Linked DNA regions of Homo sapiens. The protein of the gene in region 4 interacts with the protein of the main gene of each other region in a pairwise test. Each region holds a gene or a part of one and is shown on either strand. Other genes may lie near its edges.

Region 1 (3,697 bases), on a different chromosome or scaffold from region 4:
TGAGTCCACTCCAATACAGTCCTTAAACCTCTAGAGGGAGAAAAGAGCCTTGATTTCAAACCTCTCACCAGTACACACACACACACACACACACACACACACACACACACACGTTAAATGAAAAAGGCGCACGTCTATATTTTTTGTTTTGCTTTTGTTTTGGTTTTTATTGAGACAGGGTCTCACTCTGTCGCCCAGGCTAGAGTGCAGTGGTATGATCTCAGCTCACTGCAACCTCCGCCTCCTGGGTTCAAGCAATTCTCCTGTATCAGCCTCCCAAGTAGCTGGGATTACAGGCGCATGCCACCATGCCTGGCTTATTTTTCTATTTTTAGTGGAGATGGGGTTTCGCCATGTTGGCTAGGCTGGTTTCAAACTCCTGACCTCAAGCAATCCACCTGCCTTGGCCTCCCAAAGTGCTGGGATTACAGGCATAAGCCACCGCGCCCGGGCTATTTTTTAAAAAAGCATTATTAGGCTGGGCACAGTTGCTCATGCCTGTAATCCCAGCACTTTGGGAGGCTGAGGCAGGTGGATCACGAGGCCAGGAGTTCAAGACCAACCTGACCAATATTGCGAAACCCCGTCTCCACTAAAAACACAAAAATTAGCTGGGCATGGTGGCGTGTGCCCGTAGTCCCAACTACTTGGGAGGCTGAGGCAGGAGAACCACTTGAACCCGGGAGGCGGGGGTTGCAGTGAGCCAAGATCATGCCACTGCATTCCAGCTTGGGCAACAGAGTGAGACTCTGTCTCAAAAAAAAAAACAAACACAAAAAATTATTATACTTGATTTAGGATCATTCTTGCTGTTCCATCCTCCCAGCCCTAATTCTTCTCGGGGCACATTTTATTTCAGCTTCTCCCTCTGTCATGGTATACACACACAGACTGCCTTTCCTTCCCCTCTATGGTTTTTTCAAATACCCGGCACAGGGAAGACAAAAATCATTGGTTTGAATTCTGCTCAAAAATCCTTCTCCTGGCCAGGCATGGTAGCTCATGCCTGTAATCCCAGCACTTTGGGAGGCTAAGGCAGGTGGATTATTTGAGGTCAGGAGTTCGAGACTAGCCTGGCCAACATGGTGAGACCTCGTCTCTACTAAAAATACAAAAATTAGCTGGGCATGGTGGCACACGCCTGTAATCCCAGCTACTTGGGAGACCGAGGCAGGAGAATCGTTTGAACCCCAGAGACAGAGGTTGCAGTGAGCCAAGATCCCACCACTGCGCTCCTGCCTGGGCAACAGAAAGAAACTCCATCTCAAAACAAAACAAACAAAAAGTATATTCCTAAGGGCTCCTAAGAAACATAAAAGAAGGGCCTAGTTTCCATCTTCTTTTTTTTTTTTAAGATAGGATCTCACTTTGTTGCCCAGGCTGCAGTGCAGTGGCGCTATCATGGCTCACTGCAACCTCAAACTCCTGGGCTCAAACTGATCTTGCCTCAGCCTCCTAAGCAGCTGAGGCTACAGATGCATGCCACCACACCTGGCTAATTTTTTAAAAATTTTTTGTAGAGACAGGGTCTTGCTGTGTTACCCAGGTTGGTCTTGAACTCCTGGCCTCAAGTGATTCTCTCATCTCAGTCTCTCAAAGTGTTGAGATTACAGACATGAGCCACTGCCGCTCGGCCCTGGTTTCCATCTTACTCAGTATAGATATAACATGAAGTCAGACTTACTGAGGTATTCCAAAGAAGTCTCTGCAGAAGCTGCATGCATTATGATCCTACCAGCATTTTTAGCAGCCAAAGGCACAGTGGAAGTTTAGTTCCACCAGCAGGCATTGGGAGCACACAAGAGTCACAAGTGCCAATGCCAAATGTGATCATCTACCAGCAGCTAATTTTGAAGATCTGTCTAATTTCCTTGCAATTGTAGGCCTCTTAAAGAGGCTCAGATGCATTTGCTCTTGAATCCTATTGTGACTTGTGAGGTAGGAGGCGACCTATAATACAGTTTGCCTCTCACAAGTGTGAGGACTAAGAAGTGATGACAGAAGACAGGAGTCCCAGGTCTCACGCTGAGATGGGGAGGAAACGTAATACAACCTTTTCATGTATTTCTCCCCCTTTCCCTCCACCCAGTCATCGCAGCTCTCAAATTTGAATTTGTCCACTAACTTTCCATCCTTGCTGCCATCACCCAAATCCAAGCCTTCTTCAACCTGGATCAGTCTTCCTGCTCTCTCTCCCTCCAGCCCTGAAACCAGAGGGCTTTTATTGGAACACTACAGTCCATCACTGCAATTGGGAAACTTCTAAGAAAATACAAATCAGATCACATCACTAAACTCCAGACTCCATAGGAGATTTCAGGGCCTCTGTAGCCTGTTCCCAGCCTGTCCCTCCAGCTCCACTGCTCCCCTGCCCACCAGGCCATCTACACTTCAACACTGAACTTGTCCTTTCTTGAGCAACACATGCTTTCTCACCAAACTTCTGCAAATGCTAGATCCCTGCCTCCACCTTATCCTCACAGAATGATCTAGATTATATAACCTAGAAAGGAGGTCTCCTTTCTTAAGAACTGAGAAAAAATAGTGCTTGCTATGAGTTCACTGTGATTTGATTTTTTACAATACACTGGAACTACAGACCCTTGAGTAGGCTCATCTCTGAAACTATCAGCAGTGTAACAGAGCAGAAAGATCATCCAGAGACTGCTGTCTATCCCAGAAGGGCAGCGAGCTAGTCTCCAGATGTCAAACTCTCCCATCACTGCTGCTTTTCTCCAAGTCAAATCCACCCAAACAAGCACTCCTGAGGACTGGCTGATGCTTCCAGGCAAAGGACAATGAAAGAAATGCCAAGTGAAAAATGATGGAATCGGGGTACTAGAAACCAGGCAAAGCAAGGAAAATGGATGCAATCTGCTAGCTTTTCTCTATCATTCATATCTTTAATCCTTTATGTAAATAGAAAGCACGGGCACGAATGGCAGAGCATCACCCAAAGAGCAAAGGTCAGGGAAGAATATGGCTACAGTGCTTGGCAGGGGAACCAAGCTGCCTTACTGGAGAAGTTTCCTAGCATTTATCTAGAACATATAAATAAAGAGCATAGGGAAAAAAAAAGTGCTGGAATGAATAAGATAGCAAATAATCACAGCTGCAAAAGGTATATGATAAAATACCAAAAGGATCTTGCTATGATTTGTTTGCTTTTGCCTAATAATCTTAGTAGGTTTTTAAAAGCTGCGTTTCAAGACTGTGCATATTTTGGGGGAATAGCAACAGAACAGGAACGAAAATGTAGTGAACACGAGGGAAAAAAACTCTTTTAACATTTTCCTTAAGAAGAATCAACACATACTGATTTACCTCAGTCGTTCTACTGGTTTCACTGGTATACACAGATCCTAATCTAATTTTTTTGGTTGGATTAGACAAGTTAGAGATAGAAGAACATCTTGAACTAAAGGCCTTTGCAGCCTGATTACCTATTATCTGTAATGTATTTTATGCTCCACAATGTTCGTGGTTTTTTCCTCCCCTATACTTTCAAACCAATGGTTAAACCAGATGCTTAAGCCAGACTATTAATCAACTTGTGTAGAAGCAAACCCATTTACACATAGGCAGTAAGACAGCTTTGCTATAGAAACCTCACAAAATGTATTTCTCAACTAAATAATAAGAAAATGGCATAAAATCTCAATAAGCCACTGTCTTAGAGAAATGGCTTATTCAATGA
Region 2 (3,697 bases), on a different chromosome or scaffold from region 4:
TCCAGCCTCCATCTCCCGAGTAGCTCGGATTATAGGTGCCCGCCACCACGCCTGGCTAATTTTTTGTATTTTTGGTAGAGATGGGGTTTCACTGTGTTGGCCAGGCTGGTCTCAAACTCCTGACCTCATGATCCGCCCACCTGAGCTCCCAAAGTGCTGGGATTACAGGCATGAGCCACCACCCCAGCCTACTGTTACTTTTTTACAATAATTTTACCTTATATGTATATCCGTAAGCAACATATGGTTTAATAGTGCCCATTTTCAGTCTTATTCTCAATGTAAGAATTGTATGATTCTTCTGATGCTTGATTCTTTCACTCTTACATGCTTGAGATTTATCCATGTTGATTTCTTTTTTTTGAGATAGGGTCTCAGTCTGTTGCTCAGGCTGGAGTGCAGTGGCTCGATCCTGGCTCACTGCAACATTCACCTCCCGGGTTCAAGCGATTCTCCTTCCTCAGCCTCCCAAATAGCTGGGACTACAGGTGCCCGCCACCATGCCTGGCTAATTTTTGTATTTTTTGGTAGAGACGGGGTTTCCTTGTGTTAGCCAGGCTGGTCTCGAACTCCTGACCTCAGGTGATCTGCCTGCTTCGGCCTCCCAAAGTTCTGGTATTACAGGCATGAGCCACTGCACCCAGCCCCCATGTAGATTTCTTTTTTCTTTGTTTTGTTTTATAAGACGGAGTCTTGCTCTTTTGCCCAGGCTGGAATGCCAGTGGCACGATCTCGGCTTCTCAGCTCACTGCAGCCTCTGCCTCCTTGGTTCAAGCAATTCTCCTGCCTCGGCCTCCCGAGTAGCTGGGATTACAGACACCTGCCACCATGCTCAGCTAATTTTTGTATTCTTAGTAGAGACGGGGTTTCACCATGTTGGCCAGGCTGGTCATGGACTCTTGTTTGTTTTTTTTTTTTTTTTTGAGATGGAGTTTGCTCTTGTTGCCCAGGCTAGAGTGCAATGGTGCGATCTTGGCTCACTGCAACCTCTGCCTCCTGGGTTCAAGCAATTCTCCTGCCTCAGCCTCCCAAGTAGCTGGGATTACAGGCAGGCACCACCATGCCTGGCTAATTTTTTTTTTTTTTTTTGCATTTTTAGTAGAGCTGTGGGTTCACTATGTTGGGCAGGCTGGTCTCGAACTCCTGACCTCCAGCGATCTGCCCACCTCGGCCTCCCAAAGTGCCGGGATTACAGGTGTTAGCCATCGTGCCCGGCCCGTTGATTTCTTATAGTAGTATGAGGTTACATTGTAAGGATGTGCCATATGTTGTCTATTTCATTGTTGATGGATATTTGTCTCATTTCCAGTTTTTTGAGATTACCAATTTTACTTGTCCTCATGTGGACATTTGCCACCCTGCCCACAACAAACAAAGTCCATTTTCTCAAGACTACATAACTGAGAGTGGAATTTTTGGTTTGTATGTAGGGTATGTGTAACTTTTACTAAGTAATGCTAAAGTGTTTTCCACATGTTGCACAGTTGTTCTCAGGCTTGTCAGCTGAACCACAGAACACAGAAAGTTGAGTTACTATTTTCTCAAATCTGTCAAGGATGGTACATAATGAATTTCATTCTAGGTGTCTGGAAAAAGTTCAGCTTATACACAGAGTGGATGCCCTAAGAATTGGGAATTCATTCTCAAAGACTGAGTGGTTTAAGAGTTCTACATCCTTGCCAACATTTTATGTTGCCTTTTTAGTTTTAGCCAATTGTAGTGGGATGTTCTAGATATATCTTTCATGAACGCCACATAGCTGGATTTTGCTTTGTTAAGTTAGCAACTTGCTAACTTCTTTTTAATTAATTAGAGTGTATCGCTATGTTGGCTGGGCTGGTCGTGAACTCCTGGGCTCAAGTGATCTTCCCACCTCACCCGCACAAAGTGCTGGGATTGTAGGAGTGAGCCATCAGCTAACCTCTTTAACTAGAGCATGGAGACCATTCATATCTGTTGTAATTACAGATATTTTGGATATATGTCTGCCATTATATTTAGTCTTCTAGTTGGCTGGCCTGTGTGTTTGTTTTCTGTCCCTTTTTTTTTTTTTTTTTTTTTTTTGAGACAGAGTCTCATTCTGTCACCCAGGCTGGAGTGCAATGGCGTGGGCTCGGCTCACTGCAACCTCCGCCTCCCGAGTTTAAGGGATTCTTCTGCCCCAGCCTCCCTAGTAGCTGGGACTACAGGCACGTGCCACCACACCTGGCTAATTTTTTTTTTTTTTTGAGACGGAGTCTAGCCCTTGTCGCCCAGGCTAGTGTGCAATGGCGTGATCTTGGCTCAACGCAACCTCCGCCTCCTGGGTTCAAGTGATTCTCCTGCCTCAGCCTCCCAAGTAGCTGGGATTACAGGCATGTGCCACCATGCCCCCGGCTAATTTTGTACTTTTAGTAGAGTCGGGGTTTCTCCATGTTCATCAGGCTGGTCTTGAACTCCCGACCTCAGGTGATCGCCCGCCTCGGCCTCCCAAAGTGCTGGGATTACAGACGTGAGCCACCGTGTGCGGCTTGTATTTTTTTTTTTTTTTTTTTTTTTTTAGTATTTATTGATCATTCTTGGGTGTTTCTCGCAGAGGGGGATTTGGCAGGGTCATAGGACAATAGTGGAGGGAAGGTCAGCAGATAAACAAGTGAACAAGGGTCTCTGGTTTTCCTAGGCAGAGGTCCCTGCGGCCTTCTGCAGTGTTTGTGTCCCTGGGTACTTGAGATTAGGGAGTGGTGATGACTCTTAACTGCCTTCAAGCATCTGTTTAACAAAGCACATCTTGCACCGCCCTTTATCCATTTAACCCTGAGTGGACACAGCACATGTTTCAGAGAGCACGGGGTTGGGGGTAAGGTTATAGATTAACAGCATCCCAAGGCAGAAGAATTTTTCTTAGTACAGAACAAAATGGAGTCTCCTATGTCTACTTCTTTCTACACAAACACAGCAACAATCTGATTTCTCTATCTTTTCCCCACATTTCCCCCTTTTCTATTCGACAAAACCGCCATCGTCATCATGGCCCGTTCTCAATGAGCAGTTGGGTACACCTCCCAGATGAGGTGGCGGCCGGGCAGAGGGGCTCCTCACTTCCCAGAAGGGGTGGCCGGGCAGAGGCGCCCCCCCCACCTCTCGGACGGGGCGGCGGCCAGGCGGAGGCGCCCCCCAACTCCCCAACGGGGCGGCTGGCCGGGCGGGGGCTGCCCCCCACCTCCCTCCCGGAAGGGGCGGCTGGCTGGGCGGAGGCTGCCCCCCACCTCCCAGACGGGCCGGCTGCCGGGCGGAGACGCTCCTCACTTCCCAGACGGGGTGGCTGCCGGGCGGAGGGGCTCCTCACTTCCCAGACGGGGCGGCTGCTGGGCGGAGGGGCTCCTCACTTCTCAGACGGGTCGGCCGGGCAGAGACGCTCCTCAACTCCCAGACGGGGTCGCGGTCGGGCAGAGGCGCTCCTCACATCCCAGATGGGGTGGCGGGGCAGAGGCGCTCCCCACATCCCAGACGGGGTGGCGGGGCAGAGGCGCTCCCCACATCTCAGACGATGGGCGGCCGGGCAGAGACGCTCCTCACTTCCTAGACGGGATGGCGGCCAGGAAGAGGCGCTCCTCACTTCCCAGTCTGGGCAGCAGGGCAGAGGGGCTCCTCACATCCCAGACGATGGGCGGCCAGGCAGAGATGCTCCTCACTTCCCAGACGGGGTGGCGGCCGGGCA
Region 3 (3,697 bases), on a different chromosome or scaffold from region 4:
GCTCACTGGGTGCCAAATCATAGTGGATGGTGAAACCAACAAGTGCAGTTAATGGTTAAAAATTGTTTTGTTTCAGATGAGTAGTAGTAATGTTAATAATACCGGCCATCTCTCTAATGCCTACTGTGCGTCAGGATCCCGCTGGTTTTCATGTACGTTAGTTAAATCTCATCCCATGCTAGGAGGTGGATTATTATCCATTGTCTCCATGTTATGGAGAAGAGGAAACAGACACAGAATATTTAAATAATGTGTTGAAGGCAGAACAGCTATTAAGAAACAGATTCATATGTCAAACTAAGCAGTTCTACTCCATAGCTTAGGTTTTTAACCCTTATACTCTACTTGAACCAAAAGCCCAGCTCCACTGGGGCTTTAGTTTGGGTGAAGGTGCTGCACAGCATGCATGCACAGGCTCTAGGTAAAATCTCTGCCAGTGGGCTAGGGGCCTGAGAGAGACCTGCACAGGTGTTCAGTTATTCCAAACACCTCAAGGTAGGTTCAACCTATGGCCTGCCTGGACTTAGCCCATTGACTTACCAGGCCATAGCTGTCCTTTTCCCACCTGCAGAGGGCGTTATGGAACGTGCAGCTACTAAAGCAAAGGTTTAGGGAGGAATTCTGCTGGAATACCCCTCCTGGAATTAGCCTGTGAGATCTGCTAATTCCCAGGATGTGAAGCCCATGTAATTACTGACTTGTGGCAATGAATTATCAAGTGTTATATAAGTACAAAGCCAGGAAGGACAGATCTATATATAGTGTACAAAGTATGGAAAGAGTGCTGGAATTTAGAGTCAGGAAACATGGTTATTCATTCTGGCTTTACCACTAACCAGCTGCAGGACTGGAACAAAAGACATATGCCCTCTGGGTTTCTTTTCTCTTATCTGTAAGATAAGGGGCCAGCTTTCCCTAGGCTCATGTAGCAAAATATAACTCCAGGCATACATTGCTTAAGTACTCACATTTGACTGCAGCCCTTTGGAGAAAGACAACTGGGATGAGCAACTCATATGAACCACGCCCAGGCCATGCAAAATTAACTAAATCAGAAACCCTGCCCTCAAAATGCTTCCTGCCTACGGGAGGGTCTGGTAGATATCTCTCCAGGTGTTTTGGGTGCAGAACAAAAGTTCACAGGCAAATGTGTCCAGGTAAAGGAACCTGTGGGTGCTAGAAGAGCTCAGAGGAGGGGCCTTCCATTTTGGCCTGGAGCAGGGTCATAGAACACTAGAACAATTCTCTTAAGTTTTGAATTGGTAACATCATCGGCTCTTCTAAAGTCAAAGATAAGCAGTTGGTTTTTAATTAATTCCTTTTGTTGTTTGCACTATTTATAGTTTCATAGTAATTTTCTGGAATTGTCCTTAGAAGTAAACTGAGGAATTAGTAGCACTTTGATCTAGTAAGCCCAAATACTTCAGTGTCCACTTACCTACCTGAGATCACAGGTAAAGGAAATAATTCAAACTTCTGTCTTAACAATTCATGCTAAATGCTAGCAGCCATGAAGCTGCTTTTGTCTATGGAGGAGAGGGATCTCTCATTTAATTTCCTCTTTGCTACCTGTTTGGTAGTCCATAGGTAGAATGTGTTTTCAAACTCTGAGGATGGGAGATGATATTGACAAAAGGGAAATTGGAAAGATTACAATCTTAGGAAGAATTAAAATACCAGTAAAGCTATTTTTGGAATATTAAGTGCATCTTCCATCTTCAAATGACGTTTCATTCTAAACTTTCATCATTTATTACCAGATGCTGGGATGCACACATGCTTGAACGTTGCAAAGTTGTTACATATTTTTAATTATATGCTTGTTCTTACAATATGTCAACTACATAAAGATTTTATAGTGTTAGAGCATGTTTGCTCATTTTTGTTAGTATCGGGAACATTTCTAGGCATTCTGCTAATTTATCGTGGCCTTGTGCAAGCCATTTATTGTCTCCATTTTTGTTTCCTTCAATGTACAAAAGAGAAAGCAATGCTTTTTTTGAAGAATGTTGAAAATATGAATGTAGAATGGTATAGGGTTAGTTGTGAGTCCACGGGCTTTGTGGGTTGCAGTAATGGAGATTTGTCATGATGCTGAGTACCAGGGCACAGAAATTGTTAACATGCCTGCTCTGGGTATTCTGGGTTTCAGAGAGAGATTGTAGTCTGTAATGTGCATAGCACAAAGTACATGGAAAATGAAAAAGGAAAGCATTCTGTCTGAAGTGCTTTGCACTTCTCTGAAGAAAATGTGATTCAAATGGAGATTGTGGTACAGTCGGGTCATGCCTGGAACACTGTTTACTTTAGCAAGGAAGGAAGTGAAAGTGAGATTATTTGGGCCTCAGTCCCTGCAAGATGCATAGATCCTTTAACAGTCTGTTCTCTGCTTCCAGAGAGGGAGAGAGAGAGAGAGAGAGAGACAGAGACAGAGAGAGAGGGGAAATTACTAGTTATTGATGGAGGCTTGACCCTCTTTGAGCAGTAGATTAACTCCAGAGCCTGGCTGTGCTTGTGATGTGCAGGGTATTTGGCTCCGGCAGGAGTGCGGTTTCTCCCTGTCTTCATAGGCTTCTCTTTCTTTGGGCATGTTTTGTTGCTGCTTTCTCTACTCAGTTTTCTGCATATTCTAAACTTGTTTTTTCCCTTCTTTCTGTACTCTTTTACCCCATTAAAACTTCCTCTCTTTACAGCCTGTTTGATCTCAGTTAGATACTTGTGAAAGATCTCACTGACTCCACAAAATACCATTAAGCTGCTAATAATAATGAGAGTAATGTGTTCATTCCTCCAGGGATGGTTGTAATTTAATTTGTACATCCAAATAAAAACATAGTTAATAGTAGAATTTTCTCCACTGCCTCTCAAATGATACCAAGTGTCTTTTTTTCTTTAACTTATACCAGCAGGCATCCAACTTTGAATAAGGAAACTTGTCTATTGGCTTATTTTTTTTTTTCAGTAAAGGAATGATATTTTTAACTGTTTTCTGCTTCCTACAGTACATTAGTCTGCTAGGGCTGCCAGAGCAAAGTAACACAGACTGGGTAATTTAAACAGAAATTTGTTGTCTTGGAATAAATCTGGAAATCCAAGATTTTCAGACTTCCACATTTCCAAGTAATCTGGAAGTCCAAGATCAAGGTGTCAGCAGGGCTGGTTTCTTCCGAGGCCTCTCTCCTTGGCTTGCAGATGTCCATCTTCTTCCTGTGTTTTCTCATGGTGTTCCCTCTGCATCTGTCTGTGTCCACATCTCCTCTTCTTATAAGGACACACTCATATTGGATTGGGGCCTGACTTCATTTTAACTTAATTACCTCGTTAAAGACCTGTCTCCAGACAGTCATATTCTTAGCTACTGGCGTGAGGACTTCAAAATTTGAATTGTAGAAGCACACAGGTTAGCCCAAAACATAGTGTCAATGACCAAAATTGACTTCCTAAAACAGACCTAACGAGGTAGTAACAGTGGGGTGTGTGAGGATGCATCAGCACACATGATGGGAAAACAGTGCTTATGACGAAGGCACGGAGTGAGTGGTGATGAAGTGTATGCCAATGAACATTAACTGAGGGGCTCAACTTGACCATTCTGATTCTGTGTCTATTGCATTCTGAGAGCTACTTTAGGAGTTCCTGTATTACTTATGTGAATGGATCCTTGTGTCACAGAAAACTAAAAGGTGACTAAGGGTAG
Region 4 (2,538 bases):
ACTCCAGCTTGAGTGACAGAGCGAGACCCTGTCTCAATAAAAAAGAAAACCTCCATGATATATGACATAAACATTATTTTAAGGAAAACCATTTTAAATATTGTTTTTAACTTTTATATGTCCTCAAATGTGAAAAACTTTAAAGAGATGTAAAAGGCAGATGGCCTTTTGATGGAGATTCCAGGTGAATGAATGAGCATTTCAGGCAGCTGCGTATAACCGAGCCCTAGCTCACATGACTCAGGAACCATCCCTTCATTCAGCACAGTTTCTTGGTCCTCCAAGTTTGCTTTTGAGGGACAGAAAATCAGGTCGGGAGGCCACTGACCATGGTGGCAGTTGCTCCTGTAGTCAAGACTAGCTCCTTGGCCAATGCACACACATGCTCTGAAGCTTAGGCCTTTGTTTCTAGTCAAAAGGTGGGCTGCTCTTGGGCTACAGCATGACAGAGACATGCCGAAGCCCTTTTCCTTTCAGATACGGCGTGGAGATCAGCTCCTCCACCAGCATAATGGGACCCAGCATCCCTGCCAAAACTCGGGAGGTGCTCGTCAGCCACCTGGCATCTTACAACACATGGGCTTTACAAGGCATGTATGGAGTTTCTTGTGGGCTTGGCAGGTGGCTGTGAAGGCCATCAGTGTCTGAAGCCTGTACTTGCCCCTCCCCAGGTCCTGTGAGTGGAGAGGCACAGAGTGTTCTGGGCTAGCTGAGTGTGGAGGCTGGGTGGCTCTGATGCTAGCCAATCACTCTACGCTCTAGGCTCACACCTTTCCACCTTCGACTTCGCCAGCAGAAGTCTTGAGTTCAATCTCATTGCCCTGGCTTGGGTCACATGTCCATCCATGAACCAATCACTAGACTGGGTGCGGAAAGCTCTGATTTGCCAAGTTCGGGTCATGTGTCTCACTAGGTAAGAGCAGAGGAGGATCACCCCCAGGGAAGACCAGAGTGCTCTTTCAGAAGAGTGGGACAATCGCTGGATGGCTCTTTGCACCACTCACTCCTGTTCTCTGCTAGGGCTGCTGGGACTCACAAGGGGTAGGTTGTGGCAGCTGCCCTGTTTTGGGTTCTGACTTGGCTTGTGTCCCTGCAGGGATTGAGTTTGTAGCTGCCCAGCTCAAGTCCATGGTGCTAACCTTGGGCCTGATTGACCTGCGCCTGACAGTGGAGCAGGCCGTGCTGCTGTCACGCCTGGAGGAGGAGTACCAGGTGAGGAGCAGCACCTCAGGTCCCGCCTCCCCCTTCCTAGTTCAGACTCACTTTGGGGGAGCAGCTAACCCATCTGAAATATAGTTATGCATACTTGGCTTTTATTACTTTTATGTACACGCAGAAATCAAAATCAAGGACCAGCAGAAGTATTGTCAAGTAGGCCTGGCATGGTGGTTCACACCTGTAATCCCAGCACTTTGGGTGGCTGAGGAGGATGGATCATTTGAGGTCAGGAGTTTGAGACCAGCCTGGGCAACATGGCAAAACCCTCTCTCTACAAAAATACAAAAATTAGCACCTGTAGTCTCAGCTACTTGGGAAGCTGACGTGGGAGGATTGCTTGAACCTGGGAGGTGGAGGTTGTAGTGAGCCAGGATTGTGCCACTGCATTCTAGCCTGGGTGACAGAGTGAGACCCTGTCTCAAAAAAAAAAAAAAAAAAGGTAAGATAATAACAATAAAAAAATAACAGTAAGTGCTACCGCTGTGTTCCTGCATTGTATCCATCTCACCTCCTCTCAGCAGCCTGGGCAGGTAGGAGCTGTGGTTATCTCTGTTTTACACAGAAGGAAATGGAGGTGCAAGGTTGCACCTCTGGAAAATGTGCCAGCTGGGGTTTGAAGCCAGGTCTGGTGATTTTAGGGCCAAGGCCGTCAGGCCTCACTCTGCACAAGGAGGTTCACGGGTGGATAAAGACCATCTGGGCTTGATAAAGCCTGCAGAACAGGCCCTGCCAAGATGACTGAGAACCCGTTTGTGCTCCTTCATCAGCTGAGCCTTCATACCCTGACATTTTATCTGGCTGGCAGAGGAGCATAGGGGTAGCTGCTGTTTGTATACAAGTTTTGATTTAGTGGGCTCAGAATTAAGGTTTTGCCACAGTATGGTTTGCATTTTTTAACTCTGAAAATTATAGCCATCTTTGCAGTCTTTTTATTGTTATTCCACCAACCTCAGAAGGTTAATTGCTATTATGAATTGGTCCCTAATATGGTAAAAACAAACAAACAAAAAAACACAAAACTTTTTGTGATGTATTTCCCTAGTTCTTGTAGTCTTCTGCTCAGAAAAATGCCAGGGAAAAAACTATTTTTGTATAACAAAGGAGGCCCGCTACTATTCTCTGGATGTCAGAACTGATTACATAGGAAGGGGGTGACTTGTAGGGCTGGTGGGAAGCCAGTCTGGGCTCTGCTTCTGACTATGGGACCCAAGCCAGGCCATCATTCTCTGAACTTTGGTTTCGATCCTCTACAAACAGAGGAATAACCTGAATTATGTATGTGATGGTATACAATGAAAGTATGGAATACTCTTCAGATGA

The links. Proteins that work in one complex are often made in the same cells at the same time.
Region 1: the proteins of ATPAF2 (region 4) and FNTB interact in binary tests that used the Homo sapiens proteins (3 or more experiments, as listed by UniProt).
Region 2: the proteins of ATPAF2 (region 4) and UBAP2 interact in binary tests that used the Homo sapiens proteins (3 or more experiments, as listed by UniProt).
Region 3: the proteins of ATPAF2 (region 4) and VWC2 interact in binary tests that used the Homo sapiens proteins (3 or more experiments, as listed by UniProt).

Annotation. Positions count from the first base shown.
Region 1 is NC_000014.9:65,028,395-65,032,091, reverse strand, and holds part of FNTB (protein farnesyltransferase subunit beta), read right to left. Parts: intron 1-3,697. UniProt on the Homo sapiens protein: Essential subunit of the farnesyltransferase complex. Catalyzes the transfer of a farnesyl moiety from farnesyl diphosphate to a cysteine at the fourth position from the C-terminus of several proteins having the C-terminal sequence Cys-aliphatic-aliphatic-X.
Region 2 is NC_000009.12:34,038,691-34,042,387, reverse strand, and holds part of UBAP2 (ubiquitin-associated protein 2), read left to right. Parts: intron 1-3,697. UniProt on the Homo sapiens protein: Recruits the ubiquitination machinery to RNA polymerase II for polyubiquitination, removal and degradation, when the transcription-coupled nucleotide excision repair (TC-NER) machinery fails to resolve DNA damage. May promote the degradation of ANXA2.
Region 3 is NC_000007.14:49,776,638-49,780,334, forward strand, and holds part of VWC2 (brorin precursor), read left to right. Parts: intron 1-3,697. UniProt on the Homo sapiens protein: BMP antagonist which may play a role in neural development. Promotes cell adhesion.
Region 4 is NC_000017.11:18,019,797-18,022,334, reverse strand, and holds part of ATPAF2 (ATP synthase mitochondrial F1 complex assembly factor 2), read left to right. Parts: intron 1-477; coding exon 478-590; intron 591-671; exon of another isoform or gene 672-913; intron 914-1,096; coding exon 1,097-1,212; intron 1,213-1,336; coding exon of another isoform or gene 1,337-1,375; exon of another isoform or gene 1,376-1,695; intron 1,696-2,538. UniProt on the Homo sapiens protein: Plays a role in the assembly of the F1 component of the mitochondrial ATP synthase (ATPase).